3 linked regions of the Homo sapiens genome follow. The protein of the gene in region 3 purifies or fractionates together with the protein of the main gene of each other region. This does not show direct contact. Each region holds a gene or a part of one and is shown on either strand. Other genes may lie near its edges.

Region 1 (3,656 bases), on a different chromosome or scaffold from region 3:
TTCACCTTATTTAGGTGACTTTTTAAATTATATTGTTGTGGGACTATGTCTCCTAGTTTTTAATGACTAAATTTGTATTTCTGTATTTCTTGTTCTCCTTGTTTGGAGGTAAGTTTTATGAGGAAGAGACAGTGACATATTCATCTACCATTTTAAGAAAGCTACCTTATTCTTTTAAATGGCTGCACAGTATCCCTTTGTATGGATATATCATAATCAATTTAACTGGCATCTTTTTGGTGGACTATTGGATTCTTTATCGTCGTTTACGATAGGCAGCACTAAAACATCCTTAAACATATATTTTTACACTATTCTTTGTATGTTTTGCATGCATGTTTCTTTGCATGTTTTTTTTTTCCTTAGAGACAGGGTCTTGCTCTATCACCCAGGCTGAAGTGCAGTGGCATGTTCATGGCTCACTGCAGCTTTGACCTCCTGGTCTCAAGGGATCCTCTCATCTCAGCCTCCCAAGTAGCTGAGGCTACAGACATGAGCCACCATGCCTGGCTAATTTTTTTATTTTCTGTAGAGATGGGGGTCTCACTATGTTGCCCAGGATGGGCAACTTCTAGCCTCAAGAGATCCTCCTGCCTTGGCCTCCCAAAGTCCTGGGATTATAGGCATGAACCACCATGCTTGGCCTCTTTGTACATTTCTTAGGGTAATTTCTTAGAAGCAAAATTCCTGCCAATACAGCTGCTAATTATTATTTTACATTCTGATAGCCCTTCAAAAGGGCTAACTGTGGACAAGAGTTTCTGCTTCTCAACATCTTCACCAATGCTAGTTTTTTCAACACGTTCTTATGATAATTATCAAAGATACGGAAAAGTTGAAAGAATGTTACAGTGAATACCATGTACCCAGCACTTAGATTTGACAATTGAAATTTTAACTATTCTTGCTTTATTAGATACCTGTTCAATCTGTATTTAACAATGAACTAGCATCTTTCTTGTGTGTATGAACCATTTAAAAACTGCCTTGTGTTCATTTTCCTTTTGGATGATAGTTGTTTTTCATACTGATTTCTAGAAACTCTTTTTGGTTTTTTGTTGTTTTTTTTTGTTTGTTTGTTGGTTTTGAGACAAAGTCTCACTCAGTCACCCAGGCTGGAATGCAGTGGTGCGATCTTGGCTCACTGCAGCCTCTGCCTCCTGGATTCAAGCAGTTCTACAACCTCAGCCTCCCGAGTAGCTGGGATTACAGGCATGCACCACCACCACACCTGGCTAATTTTTGTATTTTTAGTAGAGATGGGGTTTCACCATGTTGGCCAGGCTGGTCTCGAACTCCTGACCTCGGGGGATCTGCCCACCTTGGCCTCCCAAAGTGCTGGGATTACAGGCTTGAGCCACCGCGCCTGGCCAGAAACTCTTTGATTAATGAATAAATTCGTCCTTTATCTGTCATGAGTTGCAAATATGTCCCAGCTTGTTTATCTCTTGATTTTGTCTGAGGCATATTTTTCTTGTAGGCACTGATACCTGTAGGTCTGTCAGAGAATTCTCACTTACTCATATGTATCTGTCTTTTCTGCCATTTCTTTCTAATATCACAAGTATCTGTGACATTTCATCACAGATTTAAAACACAGCATGCTTGTATAAGAAAGAATCTGTTCTTATTAGATTGGAATATGTGGTAATTATTGTGTTGTTGAAGCCTTAATATTGATAAGTAATGTTTCCTAAAGACTTTCTTCATGAGACCATTTTATGGATGCCTGAACAGTCAGTATTTTTTATTCTGAAAGATGCAATATGATAAATAGGAAAGTACTGAATTTTCCACTAATTATGTTAATTTTACTTATATAAACCTCTGTTTCTTTACCAGTAAAATAAAAAAACCAAGGCATTATAAAAGTTCCAAAATCTTTTGGAACTTTTATAATATAACTATATATTTTTCCTAATATCTTAGTGTTTCATAGCGCTTTGTACTTTTTAGATGACATTTATTTAATTCACTTCATCTGCCATATATACAAGTATATAGGGCAGGCGTTATTCCATTTTTAATAGGTTAGGAAGCCACACTGGGAAATCAAGTTATTTTGCTAAGGTTAATGACAGAATAGGAACTAGAACCCAACACTCGTTTCTGTATATTAGCTGCTTATAAGTGGTTTACTGTCTAAATTTACAGGATAGGACCTGATCTGCATAGCAGAATAATCTGGACAATTAAGATATTACTCATTTTAATAACATTTGCTACTTTTGAAAAGTAACCACCCAAGCTGATTGGTTAAGGGTTACTTTTGCATGCATACATGTTTGTGTGTGTGTATGTGATATATAGAGAGAAGCTACATTTGAAAATTAATTTCAGACTTAATTATTTCAACAAAGAATAGAGAAAGTCATTTCCTGCTTTCTAAAATGTGCATTATATTAGGGCCAGCTAGGCTATGGCATCAAATAATTCCAAATATATATTTGCTCAATATAATAGATGTTTATTTCAAGTGTTCAGGGCACTCTTTACTCTGTCATTCTGAGCCATGATCCAGCCTGAAATGAGCTCTACCATTTTCAACACATGGCTTCCAAGACTACTGGGAGTTCTTTCCATTTCAGTAGGCCAGAAGGAAGAAAGAGTATGGAAGAGCGTGTGACTTGCCTGACCGTAGAACACATTATTTTGACTTGAGTTTTGTTAGCCAGAGATCAGTTACATGGCCATATCTAAGTGCACAGGATGCTAGGAAACAATTCAGTGTGTGCCCAGAAAAAGAGGAAGAGCAGCTTTGAGGGAGCCACTAGCAGTCTACGTTGTGTACTTATTGCTTTAAGGTTTTCTTAAGGGTGGAAAAAAACAGGATTTTTATATGCTAGCATTGTAACTTATAATAATATTCTTCCCAATTTAGGAATCACACTGTCAGAGTACTTCCGTGACATGGGCTATCATGTCAGTATGATGGCTGACTCTACCTCTAGATGGGCTGAGGCCCTTAGAGAAATCTCTGGTCGTTTAGCTGAAATGCCTGCAGGTAAGTCTGTGTATTGCTTATCATGTAAACAAGACTGATGGGATTTTCGGGGCTGGCTTAGAAACTCTGTTTTAAAATTTCTTTTCATTTTTCAGATAGTGGATATCCAGCCTATCTTGGTGCCCGTCTGGCCTCGTTTTATGAACGAGCAGGCAGGGTGAAATGTCTTGGAAATCCTGAAAGAGAAGGGAGTGTCAGCATTGTAGGAGCGTAAGCACCCACACTATTTACTTTGCAAAAGGAAAAAAGTCACAGATGTATTAAAGAGAGAAAAAAAGTCACTTATTTTAAAGAGAGAATATTTAGCTCCCGCTGGGAGCAGCGGTTCTTAAGGAGGGTTGCACTCCAGAGTCACCTAAGGAGCTCTTTGAAGATGCACATGTTTAGGCAATTTCTACATGTCCTGGTTCCATAGGTTTGACTTTAATTTATATATTTATATGTTTAATTTAGATATTTATTTAATTTTTATAATTTAGAAAATTATAGACATAATAAGGTGAGATTGCATCACGGTAAAAAGAAAGTGAAGATTCGTGATCACTACATAAAGCCATACTTTTTTCTTAGAGCGTTTCCTCCTTGCTTCATCTATTTGATTAGAATAATAAAATTGATTATAATAAAATATCTATCTCATGTCTCATAATAG
Region 2 (3,656 bases), about 13 Mb from region 3:
ATTTAGTGATGACAGAAGCAACTTTACTTGATATCTGAGGCGTTACCCCCCAAAGTGATTTTAGAAGAGGGGCAGCTCAGTTTTCCTCTTTGTAAGGCAGGGGACAAATGGGGAAAAAAGTTCTCAAAATAAAAAAGAGAAATATGGTAGTTTTAAGATGAGGATAAGCTAGGCAGCATTTTCAGGGGCACCTGTAGCCATCGTGGTTGAAGGATTTGAATTGGGAAAGTTCCTTTGGGTTTTTCCAAAAGGTGCTGTTACCTTGTATAGATATCCACCTATCTATTCACATGGACCAGCAAACGGGACTTCTCTCTCTATCGATATAAATGTCTAGAATGAACACTGGATGCATAAAATAAACTGATCTGTTCAGACAACTATTTTCAAATAGTTTTTTTTTGCATCTTTCTTAGAAGAACTGTTTTGTTAATGCTAAGAGGTAAATGCTGCTTATTATAACCTATAATCACAGCTCTGCTTTGTAGAAAAATCAACTTTCTGCAACTCATAGATCTTGCTGAAACACTGTTCTTGTGATTTTAGTACAACTTTTACTTTCTTTTATAAAGTATAAAATCTCACACTGAAGACAACAGTAGCCCTTGTGTTTGCTAGTATGGGATTGTCCACTAAGGGACAGCTAAAAGAACTGAAATAGTTAATGCTTGGAGATCTGAGAGTGGCAACTGTGGATGTGATTCTTTTAAGGTAAAATCAACAGGCACTTACTTTATGTCAAAAGAAAAATTAGGCATATCCAGTTCATTCTTCTCTCAGTGCCTAGGATTTAATAGATTGGAATACATTTCAAAAATAAAGAATTGCTTGAACTGGGTAACTGATTTGATGTAAATGCCAAAGGAGAAGGAGTAAAAGGAAAATGACATAGAGTCTGAGCTAGAGTAACAGGGACAGTATTAATTAATATTAACCAAATATCAAATAAGAACATTTAAGAGACGAGGCCAGGCGTGGTGGCTCACGCCTGTAATCTCAGCACTTTGGGAGGCCGAGGTGGGTGGATCACGAGGTCAGGAGTTCAAGACCAGCCTGGCCAAGATGGTGAAACCCTGTCTCTACTAAAAATACAAAAATTAGCCAGGTGTGGTGGCGGGTGCCTGTAATCCCAGCTACCTGGGACACTGAGGCAGAGAATTGCTTGAACCCAGTAGGCGGAGGTTGCAGTAAGCCGAGATCATGTCACTGCACTCCAGCCTGGGAAACAGAGTGAGACTCTGTCTCAAAAAAAAAAAAAAAAAAAAAAAAACATTTAAGAGAGAAAAAGACTCTCGGGGAAATTGGATGAGTTTGTGAAGTCCCAGATGTCCCGACACACTGAATTGGGAATATCACAGGCATTTAGATACAGAGCCTAGAGAGAGAGATTAGGCCCAGAGATTCTGATCCTCTAGAGGGCATTTAGAATATAATCTTAAAGTGGCATGGGGGAAGAAAAAAAAGCAGGGGTGCTACAGCAAAGACACTATCAGATGACAGATGTAGGAGAGTGGTCATGTCAAGAAGCAAAAGGAGATGATTTTGAAGGATGTAGCAGGTAATCAACAGTACCACGTGCTATGGAAAGATTGGGAATAATTCCATTATGAATTGAAATCACTCAAGGAAAGAATGTGGCAATCCTATCACATTCTTTTAATCTCCAAAGGGCTTGTAATTTTATTAAGTTTACACACAGTAAACTATGGAGCAGAACGTATATGTGTGTTCCATTTCTAATATTTACAAGGTGCTCTTTGTAAGTCACTGATTATAGACCAACAGAAGAATTCTTAACAGTTCTAGAACCAAGAAGATTAACATCATGTTTATTCCATATTTTAAAATTCATTGTCTGCATTCTGCTCTTGGAGTAGCTGAAACAGAAAAAGAGACAGCAGAGCACCTAGATCTGGCTGGTGCTTCTTCTCGGCCAAAAGATTCACAGAGGAACAGTCCCTTCCAGATACCGCCTCCATCTCCAGATTCCAAAAAGAAATCCAGAGGTATCATGAAACTCTTTGGAAAGTAAGTAAAGCAGTAAACAAGTGGAATGGGCCCTGTCTTACATGTTGCTTAAAAGTGGCTGGACATGGGTATGGACTTTGTAAGGCCTTTGTATTCCTCTTATGGAAGGAAGTTTGGATTGTGATGTGGGATTTATTAACTCATTGGGTCTTAGTTAAAGTTTAAATTTAAATGTCTATGTTAACAACACAAAGAGGATTAGTTCCAGTAGGTGCACTAGTTAAAAATGTTCTGATTAACAAGTCTAAGGCCTCCTCAGGTCTAATACTGGCCATGTGTGTTGTCTTCTTTAGACTTAGGAGAAGTCAATCAACTACATTCAACCCAGATGACATGTCTGAGCCTGAATTCAAAAGAGGAGGGACAAGGGCAACCGCGGGGCCCCGATTAGGTTGGTCTCGAGACTTGGGACAGTCTAACAGGTAAGAAGAGCCAACTGATAGACTTTTGCATCTCTACCAAGCATCATAGCCTCATGAGTCCTGCAGTATTAGTACTGTCATTGGGTTAAACAAAGTCATTGCTTAATGCTGTGCCTAATGAAAGGGGCCATCATCTTTAGAGCCGTGCAATTTGTCAATGGTTGATGAACAAACAGAAGGTGAGGGCTGTGCGAACTAGGGGAGAGGCCAGAGCTAAAGTGTCAGCAGCATCTGTGTTAGAATGGCTCTCAGACTTAAATTTTACGTAGATGGTAATTACAAGTACTCTAAAGCATAACTTTGGAAAGATGGGATAGCATAGTGGTTAAGAGTATGTTCTAGAATCAGACCACTTGGATTTGCTTTCTGGCCTTACCACTTTCTACCAGCTGGGTGACCTTGAGCAACAGCTTCCACACCCTGTGCCTCAGTCTCCTCATCATCATAATTAGTACCTACCCCAAAAGCTGACCATGAAGGTTAAATAAGTTAATATGTGTTAAATATTTGGCAGATAATAACTACTCAAGAAACATTAGCATGTAACAGAATCTATGAAAGCACTTAAAGACAAAAATGCTATCAGAATCCTTGTATTTATCAGGACTATATAATATTTTATCCATTAAGATTCTAAGAACTGCTCTGACACTCTTAACCAAAGTTTAGGGCTGGCTTAGAACTACTACATTGACTCACTGTGCATAAGAGGGTGGGGTTGGCAAACATAAAGTACAAGACATTGATACCAAATCTTTTAACAGTATAATAGACTGACTAGAAACCCTTTACATATAGCCCCTCCCATACAGGTGGAACACTGGACATAGGTTACATCAAGGAGGAAACTCTCTTTGGCCTTCTTCAAATACCAAACAGTTTCATTTGCCATATGTTGTCTTTGAACACAGTAGAGCTCCTTGTACTATTTAAAAAAAACCATTCATCTTCCCCTCCGCACCCTGCCCCCACCCCGGAACAAGAACACTATTTGTGTATCTAAGTAAAAGAAAACAGGAATTTTGCTTTGATTGTTTCCTACACTCAGTGACAACATATTGCCCTCTTCTCATTGGTTACCATATGGAAAGAAACCATAATTCTGCTAAAGTTAGTTCAAATTAGACTTAAGTTTCTTTCAGTCCAACTGAGTTTCCTGTTTGGGAATCCAATCTTCAAACAACATTGGTTAAAACTGATACAGTG
Region 3 (3,656 bases):
AAATGCATAATTAATGAGTAATCTAGATGAGGACTGACCTAACAGCATGGAACCAGAATGGGGCAAAGTTGACTTTCAGCTGATAGGGCTTTTGGCAAGAACTCTGATTTCAGCTGCCAGTGACAAATCGGTATGTTTCAACGGGATGAAGGAAAGGGATCATTCCAGATCTAAGCAAATCTCCGGCATTTTTCTGCATTTGTGGATTGTTGTTTTGAAGCTAGTTTTTAAAGCTGTATCCCTTTCTACTTATCTAGTGTGTCCTGCACTTCCTGACCCTGAGGCCCACCTCACATCCTCTCACTTGCCTTTTATTTCCACTTCCTGCAGGTGATCTGAGGTGCCTCATCTCAACCTCACTGTAGAAATCTCTTAATTTCCACCTCAGGGCGTCTCTGAAATCACAGCCACTTAGTCCTGGAGCACATGCAGACATGGAGTGAGGGAGTTAACCCTTCCTAGGGCAACGTTTGACCTTTGTAGTATGGGAGCAGGTAGCTGGGTCCTCCATCCCTGGGATGAAGATTTCCGAGGCTAGTCCCAGTGGGATCAACCCCTGTGTCCACAGTGGAAACCAGCTCAGAATGCACCCTTCAATCGGTGTTCCTCCCTTTCACTCTCCCAGCCCACCACTCCTGTTCTCTGGAAGTACTTGCCAAAATAATCCTCCTTCCAGCAGGCATCTTAGTCTCTGATATCTGGAGAGAGCCAAGGCTTAAACACCTACTTGCAATTTTGTTTACTGGAGATTGTTTAATTTACAAATCAGTTATTTCGTTAGTGACTCCGATGAAGAGTCAAAACAAATCCAAAAACCAGGTATCAATTTACTGAGAGACCTTTCAAAGAAGGCAAGTGCAATGCCAAGGTACACAGAGGTATACTGAGAGACTAGCCGAGCAGACATAAAAGAGAAAAGCAATTCAAGGACCAAAACCAGTGAATTTTTAGCTAAACCCAATATGAATAGATTGTTTTCATTTTAATTTTTTTCTATTTTCTCCAACATCTTTTGCTTGATCTCTTTCTCATTTCTTTCTCTTTTTTTCCCCTCTGACTTCTGAATATATTAAGTAAACATTGCATTGCTTGGGGTTGAAAACTACCTGCTCTTTCATAAATGAGGTGCTAGAAAAATTATTATAGAATCCAAATATGGGAGAGAATAGTTTAAGCTACTTATGAGTATTTTATACATTTTTTTTCCTAAGACAGGGTAGGAATTTTTTCAACTGAAAACAATGAACTCATAGAAAATATTAATTGGGCTGGGCGCAGTGGCTCATGCCTGTAATCCCAGCACTTTGGGAGGCCAAGGCAGGCAAATCACCTGAGGTCAAGAGTTCGAGACCAGCCTGATCAACATGGAGAAACCCTGTCTGTACTAAAAATACAAAATTAGCCAGGCGTGGCGGCGCATGCCTGTAATCCCAGCAACTTGGGAGGCTGAGGCAGGAGAATCGCTTGAACCCGGGAGGCGGAGGCTGTGGTGAGCCAAGATCGCACCATTGCACTCCAGCCTGGGCAATAAGAGCGAAAACTCTGTCTCAAAAAAAAAAAAAATTAAATAAATAAAATATTAATCAGAGTATACAAGTAAATATTAATAAAATAAATTTAATTTTGGTGTTTGGGCTTTTACAGAGAGAAATATAAAAATGATGGCACATTTTCCATCTTTATTTATAGAAAAAAATACTTTTTATAAATAAGATTCCCATTCATTCAACAGATATTTAATCAAGTGCATTGATTTTGAGGATATTGCTGTTAAAATGTTTGAATTCTGACTTTTCCTTTTCACAACTCTAAAGAAAATACCAACAAATAGCTCTTGCTCTTGGGGCTGGGTAGACTTAATCCAAGATTCCGAGCCATTTAGTAAGTTTCTCACCCAGGCTTGAAAACATAATTACTTGAGTTATTTCATACTAACTTCTGTGAATGAGTGCTCTGATGAGCTTCCTTTTCTGGGAGGCTCAGGTAGGAGGATTGCTTGAACCCAGGAATTCCACTCTGTAGTGAGCTGTGATTGTGCCACTGCACTCCAGCCTGAGCAACAGAGCGAGACCCCAGCTCAAAAATAAATAATAAATAAATAAATAAATGGCTTTCTTTTCATTTAGAGAACACACACAAACTAGATTCATCAAAGAAACATTATTTTGTCAGGTTTATAGAGTGTTAAGCAGAAACAGTCCGCGCTTTCACAGAGCTTGTATAAAACTAGGTTTGCATTAGAATTATGTACTATTTTTCTACCTTTTCACTATTACATTTTTCATACCAGCCACCTCCCATCATGAAGATGTTTTTAAAAAATGGAAAAGTATAATGGCTTAAACTATTACAGGATTTAAGAAAATCAGAAAATAGCATGAATACTGGGAAAACCAGGAAGAGTTGAAACTTAGAGAAAACATTGAGGAATGGAGGACCTCGGTTGGAGTGGAGTGAAAACTCTGATTTTGGCTTTATTCTCAAAGCACATGCTAAGCTGTTGGCAGGACATTTTTCTCACCAAAATCTCTTGGGGATTGAGTAAAGGTTTTTTCATTCATGGAGGTACACGAGTGTCAAAAAAGCACATATTTGCAGAAGTTTCTTTTTGTGGTCAGGAAATTAGGTAGGACCAGCAACAGTGAAAACATAGCTCTTGGTTTAGTACTCAGGTTGCCTTGAGCAAGCCCCAAATTACAGCAAAAAGGAGTTGATTGGAAAGGGAAGGGGAAGGCAGGCCTGGGGTGCTTACGATGAGAAATGCCAAGGTTTTGGAGAAGAAGAAAAAGCTAAAATCATGCTTTGTGGGTAGAAAGAAAAGAGAAGAGACACACCTTCCTTTTTTCTTTTATGGTTCCTGTTTATGACTCTGCTTTTTATTCCAGCAGCCACACTTCCTCATTTCCCTACAACGCTCCCTGGAGTCGAGGGTGGAAGGGAATGTGTGAGAAAAGCTGGGGATATATGGTCAAAAATGGATTTGGAAAACACATTTATTGCCTTTGGGTGGAGAAGGGAAGTTTCTGTGGGTGCTGCCTACAATTGTCAAATTGTGGCCAAATGGCTCCATTAACAATCAGACAATTATTTGTCACCCGCAGTTTATTGGCAAATTATTTGACACCTCCCTATTTCTTAATGCCATTACTTCCGATTAACGATTGTGAAGGCCTGCCATGATGGTCATTGTACTCAGAAGTCAATTGACTTAGGCCTACTCAGATCATTCCTTAAGCGTTTAATCAGGATTAGTTTCTAAGCCTGACTAAGCCCCAGCCTATCACCGAGCCCCGGGAGCACGGTGCCATGATGCTCTAGTATTAAGACTCTACTTTTAGTGCATATTTGATAGACAGTCTTTTTTTTTTTTTTTTTTGGCTACGTAGTATTTCATTGTGTATATGTACCACAATTTCTTTATCCAGTTTACCACTGATGGGCATTTAGGTTGATTCTGTGTCTTTGCTATTGTGAATAATGCTGCAATGAACATACGTATGCAAGTGTCTTTATGATAGAACAATTTATATTCCTTTGGGTATATGCCCAGTAATGGGATTACTGGGTTGAATGGTATTTCTGTTTTTAACTTTTATTTTAAGTTCAGGGATACATGTGCGGGTTTACTGTATAGGTAAATGTGTGTCACAGGAGTC

What was found.
Region 1: the proteins of PLBD1 (region 3) and ATP6V1A purify together in Homo sapiens (co-immunoprecipitation; one large-scale study listed by IntAct). This does not show direct contact.
Region 2: the proteins of PLBD1 (region 3) and PPFIBP1 purify together in Homo sapiens (affinity purification with mass spectrometry; one large-scale study listed by BioGRID and IntAct). This does not show direct contact.

Annotation. Positions count from the first base shown.
Region 1 is NC_000003.12:113,791,991-113,795,646, forward strand, and holds part of ATP6V1A (V-type proton ATPase catalytic subunit A), read left to right. Parts: intron 1-2,881; coding exon 2,882-3,004; intron 3,005-3,099; coding exon 3,100-3,214; intron 3,215-3,656. UniProt on the Homo sapiens protein: Catalytic subunit of the V1 complex of vacuolar(H+)-ATPase (V-ATPase), a multisubunit enzyme composed of a peripheral complex (V1) that hydrolyzes ATP and a membrane integral complex (V0) that translocates protons.
Region 2 is NC_000012.12:27,677,612-27,681,267, forward strand, and holds part of PPFIBP1 (liprin-beta-1), read left to right. Parts: intron 1-1,877; coding exon 1,878-2,028; intron 2,029-2,321; coding exon 2,322-2,450; intron 2,451-3,656. UniProt on the Homo sapiens protein: May regulate the disassembly of focal adhesions. Did not bind receptor-like tyrosine phosphatases type 2A.
Region 3 is NC_000012.12:14,557,770-14,561,425, reverse strand, and holds part of PLBD1 (phospholipase B-like 1 precursor), read left to right. Parts: intron 1-3,656. UniProt on the Homo sapiens protein: In view of the small size of the putative binding pocket, it has been proposed that it may act as an amidase or a peptidase.